Homo sapiens: one gene and its partners. The protein of the gene in region 3 interacts with the protein of the main gene of each other region in a pairwise test. Each region holds a gene or a part of one and is shown on either strand. Other genes may lie near its edges.

Region 1 (3,929 bases), on a different chromosome or scaffold from region 3:
TTCAAAAGCATTGGCCTGGGGAGTGTAGGGAACCTGGACTAAGACAAGGAATGGGGCACAGCTTGGAGAAAAAGGGGAGAGTCTCAGGGCAGAAATAGAGCATCAGCCTTAGGAATTATTTATTGTGGCATCAGACCAATGACTACAAGGACATCAGCATGCAAGGGGCGGTGTTAGCCCCCGGGAGTGAGCAGCTGTCTTCAGATGAACTTTCAGACCACGTCATGCTGGAAGCAGAACTCTCACATGGAGCAGTCAGGGATTTGATTGAGTGTGGTTGGATGTATGTGCTTAAATAGGAAGAGAAAGTCTAAGGGACAGTGTGTGTGAAGTGAAATGTGAATGTTTTATTTGAACTCCCTGCAGTTCTCCCCCTCCCTGCAGCATCTGGGACCCTCCGCTGTTGAAGACAGTGGTTGATGATGGGGAACAGCAAAGGGCAAGCAAGTGGTCAAATTACTTTCTCTCCACATTTCAGAGAATGCACTGACTAAGGATCTGGACAATCTCTGACCTATCAATGCAGGGGGTGGCTCTTGGGTTAAATCACTTCCTAAAGAGACATCTCCGTGCCCTGCTGGGAGGCCTATGGTGAACCCTGTGATAGACCTGGGGACCAGGACTTGGTGAAGGGGGCATAGGTCTGAGGGAGGAGGTGCACAAGAGCTCCATACCATGCAGGCTGAAACTGGAGTCGGCTGGTCTAGGGCGTCCCACAGGACTAGGTGTGGGTGGTAGAGGGTAGCATTGGGGGAAGGCTGCCCGACAGCGTGGAATGCACAATGGGGTTACTAGGAAAGAAGGGCTGATCCCAGCCATGTGGTTTGCTTGGGGTATCATCAAGGGCTGCTGATACAGGGGTGCTGCCTTCCCTTCTTCTGCAGGTGAAAAAGGCACATTCTCTCTTCTCATGTCTGAGATGTCTCCATCTTGAGCATGGAACTCCAAGCTGAAGTCATCAACGGAAGGTATGATGTACTGGATCTGCACAGGGGACTGCAGGCCATCTTCTGACCTCAGGACATGCTCAGGGACAATCACAAGGACTGTGTTCTCCAGGGTCAGCTGCAGCACTGTCTCTGGGGCCAAGATGAGGATGACCTCTTCCAGGCTCAACCTCACTTCTGTCCCTTGTTCCAGGACTATCATGAGCTCCTCAGTGCCAGAATCCTGCTGATTCTGTGGAAAGACAGTCCTCAGTATTCTGCCCTCCAAAAAGGCTGCAAATGATGCTCATGGGGAGGGAGATGCCAGGAGCTTCACCCTTTACAACTTTAAAATACAAACTCCCTCCCAGAATTGGTGCTCATGCCAATCCACCTAAATATACATCCACTGGATGTCCCTTGAACCTGAAGATTGTGCAGCACTATCCAATCTTTGCTATGCAAGGACACAGGAACTTACCTGGGGAAGTTCCAGGGACTGGTATGAATTCAGGTGTGGAGCTCCTGAAATTGAGGGTTTTTTTGCACCTGCAGAGAGACCACAGTGAGGGAGGTTAAGGCTCTCTTCCAGCAAGAGTCTCTTGCATTTCAGAATGTGACCTTCAGAAATCCACCACCCAGCACTGGCCAGCCTCAGGACACCAGCCCCCAACAGTCAAGCACGACTTTCCACTCACCCTGCAGAAAGCACCCTCTCCATTTATGGTATCATGAGACATGACACTGACTTCCAGGCATGGGAATCTTAAAAAATATTAGGGAAAGTGCCTTACCTGTACTGGGACCCTGCTCCACTTGGCGACGTTTGGGTGGATTCATTTGTGTGGTAGCCAAACTGCAGGACAGAAAGGGACCCATCAATCTTCCACATAGTGACACAAAGTCCAATTCTCACAAGCCCCAAACTTCATTAGTCATCCGGCACACATTGCTGCTGTGGCCCAAAATCACATGCACTTGTGTTCAGCTCCAAATCCTACCTGCATCCAGAAAGTCCTAACACTCATATCCCACCCTCTCCTTTTCTAGAGGCTTTTCCTATCGGTGCATGTGTGTGATAAGACATGGCGATCACAGGAAACAGTTTGCTTTTTCAGGAGCTCATCCACATGAGAAGGAGGGACATCAAATTTGGCCCGAGGACTTTAGGAGAAGATGCTGATTTTCCGGGTATCTAACCCCTGTGTCTATGCAGTTACAGTGTGAATGGAGTGATAAATGACATGAAATGTTCCATTTTCTAGTGAGCACAAGGAAAAAATTTAGATCATGCCCACAGTTTACCTGTCTCCACACAAGAGGCAACTTCTGTTTACCCAGAGGACAGAGATTAACAATGGGAAGAAACATGAGATGAGCCCCCTGACAGGCTGCAGAAACCCCCCATGCTGGCTGCATCCTGTGGCCTCCACTGTGGGTCTCATGTCTCCCCAATGTGTTCTAAATTTATAACATTCAATGTCATGGCAGGCCAGGGTGTCTTCTCTGCCCTAGTTTGGCCCTTTAGCATACATTCACACACACACACACACATACAGTCACACACAGTCACATGTCAACCTCCTGGCAACCCAAAGTAGCCACATACTCCAACATACCTGGTCTCTCCTTCATTGTCATTCTGCGGTTCTGTCTGGGAATCTCTGGGGCTTCTTAAGCGCCGGTAACCATACATGGTAAAAGTTCTCTGGACTTGCTTGTGTCAAAAAAATCTCAATCTTTGGCCTATTTTCTGTAAATCTATATAGTTCGTGCCTTGATCTTTTACTCTACCTGGAGAAAAATTATCAGCCTCTAGCACAGCACAGCCAGAGCATGGAAGAGTGTGTCCTGGCCTGGGACCGGTCAAATGGTGCTTTGGTAGAGTGAGCTCTTGGGGAAATCCTCCAAGGGTCTTATAAGAGGTGGAGCCATGGGATTTGTCAAAATGGATGAATGTGATTGGCTAGTGGTGCTGATTAAACAACATGAAGGGCCAGCATGGGAGTGGTTTTATCAAAACTCAGTCAATATGAGTGTGACCCAGTCAGAATTAGCCTAATTCAATCAAAATTAATTCAAGATCTCTACTCTGATTCACCATATAATTGTGACATAAAATAACAGTATTTTAAACTAGCAATATTTACTTTCTATTGTAGTCTGTTCATTAATTTGGTAGGACAGTTATTTTCTGTAAAGTTCATGTGTACGTCGTTTCTTAGTAAACATAAAGGATTGGGTCTAGGAAACTTTAAATATGCCACAATTTGTATATACTCAAGTCCCTTGTATAAAACGGCGTAGAATTTGAATATAACATAATCACATTAATTTATATAATTTAAATGATCTCTAGATTACTTACAATACTTAATGCAATGCCCAGACGTCACGTCATTTATGTGAACTCAAAAAGAATGTGATGCATGGAAAATTTAAAGTTTCTTTGAAGAAACTTGTGCAAATCTTTTGTGAATATTTTCTATTCAAGATTAGTTGGATCCATGAATATGGAACCTATGGATGTGGAGGGCTGACAGTATTTTTAAATAAAAAAAAATACGTTATTTTAAGTGAATTAAGTTTTAAAATGAATCTCCTGGGGAAAGTTATCCAAACAGAAGAAGCGAATACTATAAGACAAGCTGGGGAAAATACAAAAAGAACCTTTACTTAATTTCTAATATATCATTGTGTATTAATCTGTCTGTTAATTTATTTCTTGCCTGTATCCCCGCTGGACTAATTTCAGAATTGTAATGCAAGTTTTGCTTTCAACATTACTTATTAATTACAAATCCATCATTCTTATTGGCAAAGTCACCTAAACTTCTTGCAGGTGGCCAGACACCATATGCCTGAACTCAGAATTAGTCATTTTAAGATTAAAAATTATTTGACAGTATAAAGAATAATAGATGGTATTGGGGGAAAACAGTAATCCAGTAATCACTAGAACTGAACTAGAAGGAAAATCTGTGAGGGTGCACCATTACTGAG
Region 2 (4,133 bases), on a different chromosome or scaffold from region 3:
CTGAGCCTCCGTTAGCTCATCAGAAAATTGGGGGCGCCAATCTCTAGCACGGTTGTCATGAAGCGAAATCGAGGGGCTGCACGCGCAAAGTTTTTTCCCTTGCTGTGGCGGTGCCAGGGGCCTTGAGGCTCGCAGTGGTGGTGAAACCACAACCTATCAAAACCAAGCAGTTCGTTTTACAGTCGGGGGCAGTGAGGCCAGAAAGGGAAGAGACGGTCTCACCCCTCTCCCCGACCCCTGACCCCAAGGAGTGAACAGGTGACAGCGCGACTATCGGGCAAGGTCAGGGGGTCTCCAGAGTCCGCTCTCTGTACTTCGCCTGGCAGGAAATCCCCTCGCCTGGGCGCAGACGTGGGGCGTGAACGGTGCGGCCTCTAGACGGGAGCGCAGAGGGCAGCGCTCTAAAGCTTCTGAAGCCGGGCCCAGCCCAGGGCTTCTCCAGGGCTTGAGGGAGCACAGATTCCGCTACATCCCAGCCCAGCGCCCTTACAGCAGAGGGAAATAGTTAACAAGACGTGCAAGTGACCATGCACTGGACGACGAAGGCTTGTGTGTGTGTTAATCTCCCGTAGGAACGGGAATGGGGAGGAAGGTTGGAAACCTAGGAAAAGGTGCCAGCGGGAAGGCCCGCAGCGGCGCCCGCGAGCTCGCGCGCAGGAGTCCGTAGGACTCGCTTGCATCCGCAGGCCCGTGGTCCCCCTGGCTTCGAATGTCAAAACCTGTTAGGTTTATTTTGGGGGGCTTTTTTTTAACCTGTCATTAAAATTTGCATTTCCCTTTGCCCTAAGGCAAAGCTCCGACACCCCGCCAATTCTCAGCCTAGCCTCGGGAGCCCTGGGGATCCTGGCATCTCCCCAGCCCCGCCTAGAATCGGAAAAGCCCTCGGGCGCCTCCGGGTTGAATCCCCGCTAGCGAGTTAGTAGCATCTCCTTAAGAGTGGAGAGGAGGGGGCAGGGGCCAGTGGAAGGAGAGAGGAGGAGGGGACGAGAGAGGGGGAAAGGAAGAAGCAAGGCAGGGAAAAAAATTTACTTATTTTTTTTTTCCGCTGCAAAACCTTAAGAGGGTTTGGGAGATCTGGTCAACTTTCCGAAACATCTGAATCTTTTTACTGCCCTCCGTTCTTTCCCTCGGCTAGCTGTGGGGAGGGAGGAAAGAGAGAGAGGGAGAGAGAGAGGAAGGGGGGGGGAGGGAGGGGAAGAGAGAGAGAGGAGGGAGAGAGAGGAGAGAGACAGAGAAAGAAGAGGGGGAGAGAGAGAGAGGCCGGCGTGGAGGGGAGGAGGGAGAGCGAGCAGGCCGGGCAAGGAGTGCACAGCCACAGCCTCCTCGCCTCCCCAAACTCCCAGCCAAGGCGCGCGGTGGCGTCCTCGCGCCCTCGCTCGCGTCCCCGCCCGCCGCCTGCGCAAGCCAGGCATGAATGCTGAGACTTGCGTCTCTTACTGCGAGTCGCCGGCCGCTGCCATGGACGCCTACTACAGCCCGGTGTCGCAGAGTCGGGAGGGCTCGTCGCCTTTTAGGGCATTTCCCGGAGGCGACAAGTTCGGCACAACTTTCCTGTCGGCCGCCGCCAAAGCACAGGGATTCGGGGACGCCAAGAGCCGGGCCCGTTACGGCGCTGGGCAGCAGGACCTGGCGACACCCCTGGAGAGTGGAGCTGGGGCGCGGGGCTCCTTTAACAAGTTCCAGCCCCAGCCGTCGACCCCGCAGCCCCAGCCGCCGCCGCAGCCGCAGCCGCAGCAGCAGCAGCCGCAGCCCCAGCCGCCCGCGCAACCGCATCTTTACTTGCAGCGAGGCGCCTGCAAGACGCCCCCGGACGGCAGCCTCAAACTCCAGGAAGGCAGCAGCGGCCACAGCGCGGCCTTGCAGGTTCCCTGCTACGGTGAGTGCACGTGCGGGTCACCTGGTGCTGGGGACCACGGGGTGCTTGGCTTCCGCATCCCTTGAAACTGGTGGCTTGCGGGAGGTATGAGTTGGCGGGCTGGGGGCGGGGTGGTGACTCTGGTCGGTAAACGGGATCGATCGCTGCGAGGGAGCCAAGGGATCTGTTCTGTCTCCTTCTTGTCCGCCGGCCTAGGCACGGAGCGTTTCGGCTGTTAAACTCGACTTGGAGTTTGTTTTTCCCGGTCCCTTCGGCATTTCCCCAAACCGCTCGCTTTGCGCTGCCCGCTGGGCGGGATTTGAAGCGGATGCTTCTTACCGGCCCAGGGCGTGCGGCGGCAAGGAGTCTCCGCGCAGCGCTCTGGCGCTGGGCTGCGGGGCTGCGGGGCTGCGGGGCTGCGGGGCTGCGGGGCTGCGAGGCTGCGGGGCTGCGGGGCTGCGGGACAGCAGGACTGCAGAAGCCTCGCTCCTCGCCGGCTGGGAGGCTCCTCGGGCGGCGCCGCCGCAGGTGAGAGCGCCGCAGGTGCGGAGCCAGGCGGGAAGCCCGGAGCGTGGTTGGCCGAAAGCTCACGGGAAATCCAGGCGCACTGGCGCAACACAGTGCGGAGCCAGAGACCCTAGGGTCCCAGGGGACACTGTGGTCTGGCAAGACCCGAGTCCTGGGACCCTGAGCGCTACTGGCAGTGGGGATGCGGGCAGGCCAGTTCCCCTGGAGCTTCTCCCTCGGCGATTCTTGGAGGCGGCAGGCCTCTGAACAATGGTTTAGGACAGAGTAGGAAGGGAGACAGGAAGTCCCGAGTCCCAGGTGGCCCAGAGCTGTGGCAAGAGAGAAGGGTCTGGGTCCTGATTTGAGCCCACGGGGAACCCGGGGGAGCTGGCCTAAATGACCTCCAAGCTGCCTTGAACGCAGCCACAGGAGGCAGGCCTGGGCCCCCCAGAGCACAGCCACCATTGCCCGGGAGAGAGAGACACTCAAGGACGTCTCTAGCCAGAGCAGCTCAGTAGCCTAGGCCTTCTCTTCTTCCAGAGAATCGGGGTTCCTGAACCCCAAAGCGGAAGGGGAAGCAAAGACGCAGAAAGGGAAAAACCTTCTCTGGGCCAGGAGTCCTGAGCACATACCCGGAGGCCTTGGCCTTCAGGTCCGGCCCTGGTGGGAAGAGTTGGGGGCAGGGAATTTGCCCTGATCCAGGCTGATGGAGAGGCACTAGGCCTGGGGACAGAGGCTGGGACACGGCGGAGGCCTTGGTGGCTAGAATAACTTTGGGAAAACAGCCGATGGCAGATATTTTCTCGTATTCAGGTTCCTTCTTTCACAGGCGCAGAACTAGTTCATAGATGGCTGCTGACAAACATTCACAGTCATATGCTTGTCTACAATTGCACTCTACACACACACACGCAGAGAGCATCTTCTTTAGGAGCCGATGTGGTCATACCCCAAGAACACATGCCCATGTGGCCTCGAATGAGCCACATACTCCCAAACCCATAGGACAGAACTGAGAGAAGATTTAGAAAGATTCAGTGGCCCTTCCCCACTTCCTCCACCTTCCTCTTCACCTCCAGTTGGAATGAGATCAGGCATTCAGATCACAGACCCCCAAGGCTCCACACACAGACACCCACAGCTCCACATGCAGGCACACACAGTTCCACACACAGACACCCACTGCTCCACACACAGACACCCACAGCTCCACACACGGACACCCACAGCTCCACACACGGACACACACAGCTCCACACATGGACACACACAGCTCCACACACAGACACACACAGCTCCGCACATGGACACACACAGCTCTCATACAGGCACTCTTTCCGTGCTAAGCCAGCAGAGACTCTCAGCCCTGTCCGTACTGGCTGTCCTTCCCAGCCCAGGGATGCAGGCCCCAGCTCGTCCCTGTCATTCAGGACTATTAGGTGAGGGCAGGTCGCAGACTAGGGGACCCATGGAGGTTCATCCTGCATAGCCAGAGAGCTCATGCTCTCTCTCCACTGCATTGAATTTTCATATTTTAATGAAAATTACCAGTGAGACCTCTGAAGAGGCTGATACATTAGGCAAGAAGAGAGCCTAAGGAGCTCCCCACCTCTTGGTTAAATGCCTTCAGGTCCAGAGGGAAGGCGGAGAGGCCTGGCCTCCCCTGAGCCCTCTCTCTGTGTCCTGCTGGGCCCCCACAGCCAGCCTGGCCCTTCCTCTACTTGCACTAGCCTTTGGAGCTGACGGAAAGGGCCAGCCACTTGACCCGCTA
Region 3 (2,903 bases):
TTGTATATTTCTCTAGTTCATGAGATTCCCCTATGCCTGGCCGTTCCCTTTACAGCTGGTCATTGATCCTTTCAGTTATCTTCTTTACACTCTTCCTGGGTTCTCAGACTTTCTCCCCAAGTTCATTTGAGACTAAAGGGAGAGATAGCCTGTCTGATACTAGCCCTGGGTTCCTGCACTATTCTTTTAGTTTCCCTACACACTACCCACACCTTATAATAAGGCCCTTTGTAAATAAACTCTCCTTGGCTTAAGCTATTTCGAGTGTGCCATCCATTTCCTGTTAAGACTGACTGGCAAACCATTGTTCATCACTGTAGGTCCCTAACTTATATGTGGTCAAGGTCACTCCTTTGGTTTATTGGAGAAGGGCGTTGTTATGGTTTATTTAACCAGTTTATTCTTCTTATAGTTTCACCATTGCCCACAGGGAGTTTTTCTTGCATATGCTAATAGCTCCATTGTTTACCCAGAATGAAGGTTTTTTGTTTATTTATAAATAGTTTCAAGTGTTGTTTTATTGGGATTATGAGAAGGATGGAAGGTGAAAGCAGACGATAAACTGCAAAGATTCAAATGCCTATACTAAAATATAAATTTTTTTATCCTACTTAAAGAAGTTTTCAAGAAAGAGCACTTTATAATGTTTCCTCCCCTCCACATACTGATTAGCTTCCTATAACTACATTCTATCTAAAATAAATAACTTGAAAGTTGTCTAGTTTTTATTTGGCTGTTTGTTAGATTTTAACTCTAATATACTTGAAAAAATTTAAAAAATTTAATGTGAAAACACATTTTAAAATGTTTTCTTTACCCCAAAATATTAATTTCAGTAACAAAATTGCATTTCAATTTAGCACCAACTTCCTAACAAAGAATACTTACTTATATAGAAATGTTTTCTCTTTATATAACTCAAAATACTATGAAAAACAAAAAACAAAATCAATAAACAGATTAAATTCCATTTCCATACTCTGTGACCTCTGTATTACCCTATTAGCAGTGAACAAAATGCCGATCATCAAACAAATACTCCTGGATCACCTAATGAGGAGGCCTCTGGGATTCTATAATCTTAGGTGTTGTGTCTGAGTGATACTTCCATCTGATCTCATCAATTTCACCATCATCAAGTATAAATGAAGCCAGCACTGGAACCTGAGAAAAATAGTTCTTAGCCAGGATATGTTTGTGTTTGATCTTGTGAATAAATGAGCGTTCATATCCCTGCAAAGAAAAAAATCAAATTCTAGTAAATATCACAGATATATTTTGCCAGGTAAAAATACTGTCATGCCTCGGTGCCTTTGCTTGTCAATTCTTTCATCCCAGACTACCTTTATTTTTCTCACGTTGTCTATCATCATTCACGACTCAGCTCCTATGATACTTTAACCTGGAAGTTTTCCCCAACTCTCCCTCTGACTTCTCTAAGTTTAAACCACTGCTAGTTATCAACTCAATATTCATTCTTTCTCCCATTTGAGCCAGAGGCCTGATTTTGTATAGGGTGTGATGTGTCTAGCTTTCTTAGCCCTTATTCTAACTGGGGGTATCTAGTTAGAATATATATATATATATATATATTATTAATGTTATAGATATTGAGGTGAGAAAAAACAAAAATAAAAACAAAACAAAACAAGGGAAGTCTGAGAAACTGTCACCACCAAGAAGAATCTAAGGAGATAACTAAATATCTTCCAAGATTATTTAATTATACACAATATATATAACCTTATATAATTATATATATATAATTGAATAAAGCCTTTGAAAGGGACTTTTGAGAGTGGGAAGACTCACCTATCAAGCACCTCTAGCCTTTTGCCATTACTGAGAGGTACATGTAATGAAGAAGATGAACTAGCTATCCTATCACTAAGAGCCCACCAAGCATGAGAGAGAAAGCTGAAGATTAAATATGGCTGAGGAAAAAGTGAGATGGCCTGAATTTCTGAGAACAAGGTGGAGCCACCATACTAGCCCCAAACTGCCAACCTTTGAACTTTCTTGTTACATAAGAAAACTAAACCCACATTTGATTAAATCATTATAAATTGCTTTTTCTGTTCTTGTAGCTGAACCTAAATGCAACTGAGACAACAAAAAGTTATATTCATTAAATTTTCTTGTTTCTCTGTAATTACTTAGTACAGTATTTGGCACATTCAAAAGTAAATTCTGGTTAAATTAATAAATATAATCTATTACCTATTAATCTTAATTGGCCCTCTTTTCAATCAAATCACAAATACTACCTATACTTCTTCCTAAAATTTATTTTCTGAGAATAAGACATTCCCTCAATAAAGGTCTCTTCAGAGGGTCAAATCAAAGATAAAAGAAAGTCCTGGGTGAAAGGACCAAAAGAGCAGAAAACATTATATAGGAGTATCCTGGGCTTATTAAAATTTCCTCTTAACAGAAAAATTTACTAGGTTAAAATATTCATCTTTTGAGCTAATCTAACTTTGTTTCTACCACTTCTTAGCCCATATTTCATTCAAGAAAAACTAACACACTTTATTATGCTATATTAACTTACACATGTACAGAACTTTATAGGTTTTCAAGGTGCCTTTACAGTACTATAAATTATTAAAGATGAGATAAATTATGATATATGTGTTCAAGGCACTAATAAGTAACTCTTAAATAACTGAATATATTTCCATATTATATTATTTATATTGTTAAGTAAAGCAAAGAAACTAAGTCTCAGAGTCATTTAATATGAAATTCCTGCTACAGTAAAAGTATATATACTTACATACACATAGAAAACTTCCAGAAGGATTTCAATAGATTATTATATACCTAAGAAATAGTAGTTATCATTGCAACATGGAGATAGGGATGGGTGGACATCAAGAGACCTTTTTTCCCATTGAAAT
Region 4 (3,500 bases), on a different chromosome or scaffold from region 3:
GTCCCCAGAACTGGCCATAAGGTAGTCAGAAAGGAGAGCCTCCCAGGGTGAGGTGCCCCGGGGAAGGAAGTGAGGGGAGTTGGCTGTCCCTCCCCTGGAACTATCTGAAAGGGCAGGAAGAGCCCCATCTCCTTGGGTGGCACTGTCCTTTCAGGAAAAAAGGGAGGACTAGATGGCTTCTGAAAGATCCTTCCTGAGAAGGCTGTGGTTTCTGAACAGTTGGGCTTCATCCGTCTTTCTCCCTGGGTGTGGGTCCCCCAAAGGGGAAGTTTGCTCCAAAATCTGCAAACACAGCTGCATGAATACAAAACTAAAATGCCTTGGGGTACAGTGTCATTGGCACCATCTGGTTAAAAATGACCAAAAGTGGTTTCTAATTTTTACAGGTACGTGTGTTCTCAACAAATCCCAGGAAAGCTTAAAGTCACACTAATCTATAGCTAATTATCCCACCTGGCAGCTGACTGCATAGCCCTTCCTCCTACCTGGGTTTGAAACTCCTTCCGCCCTACCAACAGTTTGGCTGTGAGGGTTCAGTGGGGTGACTGGGTCACCCTGAGCCTTTGCCAGCCTAGGTCGCCAACATTCCTCTATTTATAGGGTCTCTATGGAAACAGGGCCAGCATTAGAGAACTAATCACTGTAAAAACCCACAGAGTTCTACTCTTAGGATCCAAAGTGGATTGAAGAAGTCTCCAATTGCCCTTAAGAAGCTCTGGGTGGGGAGCCTGAGTGGGAGCAGGAGAGGAACCATTACCCCAGGTTTGGCGCTGATGATCACAGTGGTGTACAGTAGGCAGCTGCAACTGTTCAGGCCCACTTGGAGTTTCTACTGGAAACCCAGTGATGAAAGATTTTTGGAATCATTTATTTATTCCCCAGCCTCACAGATGAAATTTTAAAAAAAAAACTCAACTCATGGGCACACGGGCAAAAAATTCCCCCATTCTCAATTTTATTTTGATTCCTCTTTCCTTTATTGCTTAGAGAATTCAGCCTGGAGCCAAAGCAAGTGGGAAAAGGTCACCTCATCCACCATGTCTTTAGGCAGAACTGATTCAGCACACACCAACATAGAAGACTTTTATTAAAGTTCCCAGCATGGCGTGCCCTCTCTCTGCCTCTTTGCATCCTACCCATCCTTCACCACCTCGCCACTCCATAAAGCCCTCTCTGATCACACCAGTCTGCAGCGATCTCGCCCTGCTCTGAACACATAAGCGCTCATTATCTGCACCACTCATTTTGCAATTAATCGTGTACTGCCTTGTGACATCGCTTCTAGTGCTTTGTCTGACTGTTATCCAACTTCTCACCTGCTGACGGATGGAACCCTTGATGACAATATGAGTGACTGGACAGCAGGAGCTACAGCTCCTACATCTCTGTGTCCCTAACATTACCTGGCAGAGGCCTCAACACCAACATGGAAGACAGCTAGGTAAATTATTTGTTCATTTATTTTCTGAGCAGCCACTATCCAAGTCTCTACAAATCCATCTTACAAAGGTGATTTTAATCCTTAGATGACTACCTTTTCCAAAGACATAACCTTTCACAAAGATTTCAAATGCTCCAACAGCCTTTTCTTGTGTCTAACTCAGATTTCTCCTGCTGCAGTTTAAACCCTCTTCTCACTCTATTATCTTAGTAACCGCCAAGATTGAGTTGGCTTGGAAGGAGATGAACACAGACCAAGGAGCCAGAATGTATGTGATGTCTTCACAAATGGCTTAGGGAGGGCTTGGGAGGGGGCTCATGTCCTTACAGCCAGATTTGTTTTCCCTGGTGGACATCACTCAGTTAACCTGGCTGGAATAAGGAAGCCTTTAGTCATTTGGTTTAAAAATAACTGTTCTTTTTTTTTTTTTTTTTTTGAGACAGAGTCCTGCTGTGTCGCCTAGGCTGGAGTGTAATGGCGTGATCTCCGTTCACTGCAACCTTTGCCTGCCGGGTTCAAGCAAATCTCCTGCCTCAGCCTCCCGAGCAGCTAGGACTATACGGGCACACCACCATGCCTGGCTAATTTTTTGTATTTTTAGTAGAGACGGGGTTTCACCATGCTGGCCAGGCTGGTCTCGAACTCCTGACCTCGTGACCCCCCTGCCTCGGCCTCCCAAAGTGCTGGGATTACAGGCGTGAGCCACCGCGCCCAGCCAAATAACTGTTTTTCTAGCACAGTCACAAAACATACCTGTTATCCCCCAACAGCTTTGTTCTAACTTCTTACACGAAGAGAGACTTAAGTGTTTGGCTGACAAAGGTGGACCCTGTCCAGCTATGGCCTCATTCCAAAAATGTAGCATGCTAGTAGTCTATGGGGATTTCAAAGGCAGATGCCATTTCTTAAGGGAGAGATGAAAACAGAAATGAGTTCTGAGTTGGCCTTTAAGACCACCACTGAGAAGCTGCCTGAGCCCTTTTCCCCAGCTCCTGATAACCCCACACTTTGAAAACTTCAGCCCAAAATTTAGGTCCTATCAGATATTTCAACTCCTTGCTGAAGGAGATTCTTGTTAATGGGATTGGCAGTGAAGACATAATTAGATACACAAAAAGAAGCACATTCTGTAAATACTGAGCCTGCCAGACAGTTCCCACTAGAACAACTAGGGCAGCTGGGAATTAATCTAGAACTCAATATGTGGCAGGAGAACAGGGAGTTTCGTTTGCCACATGCTTTCCCATCGGTCACCAGTTCCCCCAGAGCCCACATAGAGGGCTGCTCTGAATATTACCTAGGCTGGAGGGGGTGGGGGGGAGGCAATCCTGGGCCTTCCAACCCTCTGCCTGCTTCATATAAGGTGCAAGCGGGACAAAACAGTTAACTTCAGCATTTGCACTACCCTCCATTGTTCCTGATCATTCTAGTCAAACAGGGCAAAGACCCTACAAAAGCACTTGCTACCTCACTTCCCCCATTTAGAAAGCCCCTCTTCTCTTGTTTGGTAATAAATGTCCCACCCCTTCTTTAAAATCTTGCTCTAGGCCGTGCGCAGTGGCTCACGCTTATAATCCCAGCACTTTGGGAGGCCGAGGAGAGTGGATCACCTGAGGTCAGGAGTTTCAGACCAGCCTGGCAAACATGATGAAACCCCATCTCTACTCAAAATAGAAAATTAGCCCGGTCTGGTGGTGCATGCCTATAGTCCCAGCTACTCGGGAGGTTGAGACAGGAGAACCGCTTGAACCCGGGAGGCAGAAGCTGCAGTGAGCCAAGATTGCGCCACTGCACTCCAGCCTGAGACAGAATGAGATTCCATCTCAAAAAAAAAAATCTTGCTCTAAACCCACCTCTTGCAGAACAACTTTCCTGATTAACCCCCATAAGTTTCTGATTGCACTGCATGATGCTCTAAGTACCCTTTAACTTCTATGTATTTCCATGATGGTTTTCTTAGAAGTATTTCATCCTATTTGACCTGGAGATCAGCTGGAGGTGAGGCCAAATAACTAATTTCCCATTTCCTTTTTGTTTGTTTGTTTTGTTTTTTATTTTT

What was found. Proteins that work in one complex are often made in the same cells at the same time.
Region 1: the proteins of IQUB (region 3) and PRR23D1 interact in a two-hybrid assay, tested with the Homo sapiens proteins (one large-scale study listed by BioGRID).
Region 2: the proteins of IQUB (region 3) and ALX4 interact in binary tests that used the Homo sapiens proteins (3 or more experiments, as listed by UniProt).
Region 4: the proteins of IQUB (region 3) and TMCC2 interact in a two-hybrid assay, tested with the Homo sapiens proteins (2 studies listed by BioGRID and IntAct).

Annotation. Positions count from the first base shown.
Region 1 is NC_000008.11:7,538,498-7,542,426, reverse strand, and holds the start of PRR23D1 (proline-rich protein 23D1), read right to left. Parts: upstream 2,801-3,929; 5' UTR 2,623-2,800; coding exon 2,546-2,622; intron 1,783-2,545; coding exon 1,721-1,782; intron 1,476-1,720; coding exon 1,408-1,475; intron 1,180-1,407; coding exon 547-1,179; 3' UTR 1-546.
Region 2 is NC_000011.10:44,307,340-44,311,472, reverse strand, and holds the start of ALX4 (homeobox protein aristaless-like 4), read left to right. Parts: upstream 1-1,333; 5' UTR 1,334-1,410; coding exon 1,411-1,876; intron 1,877-4,133. UniProt on the Homo sapiens protein: Transcription factor involved in skull and limb development. Plays an essential role in craniofacial development, skin and hair follicle development.
Region 3 is NC_000007.14:123,451,693-123,454,595, forward strand, and holds the end of IQUB (IQ motif and ubiquitin-like domain-containing protein), read right to left. Parts: exon of another isoform or gene 1,240-2,903; intron 1,234-1,239; coding exon 1,051-1,233; 3' UTR 501-1,050; downstream 1-500. UniProt on the Homo sapiens protein: Adapter protein that anchors the radial spoke 1 (RS1) complex to the A microtubule of outer doublet microtubules in axonemes. The triple radial spokes (RS1, RS2 and RS3) are required to modulate beating of the sperm flagellum.
Region 4 is NC_000001.11:205,234,446-205,237,945, reverse strand, and holds part of TMCC2 (transmembrane and coiled-coil domains protein 2), read right to left. Parts: intron 1,442-3,500; exon of another isoform or gene 988-1,441; intron 763-987; exon of another isoform or gene 655-762; intron 1-654.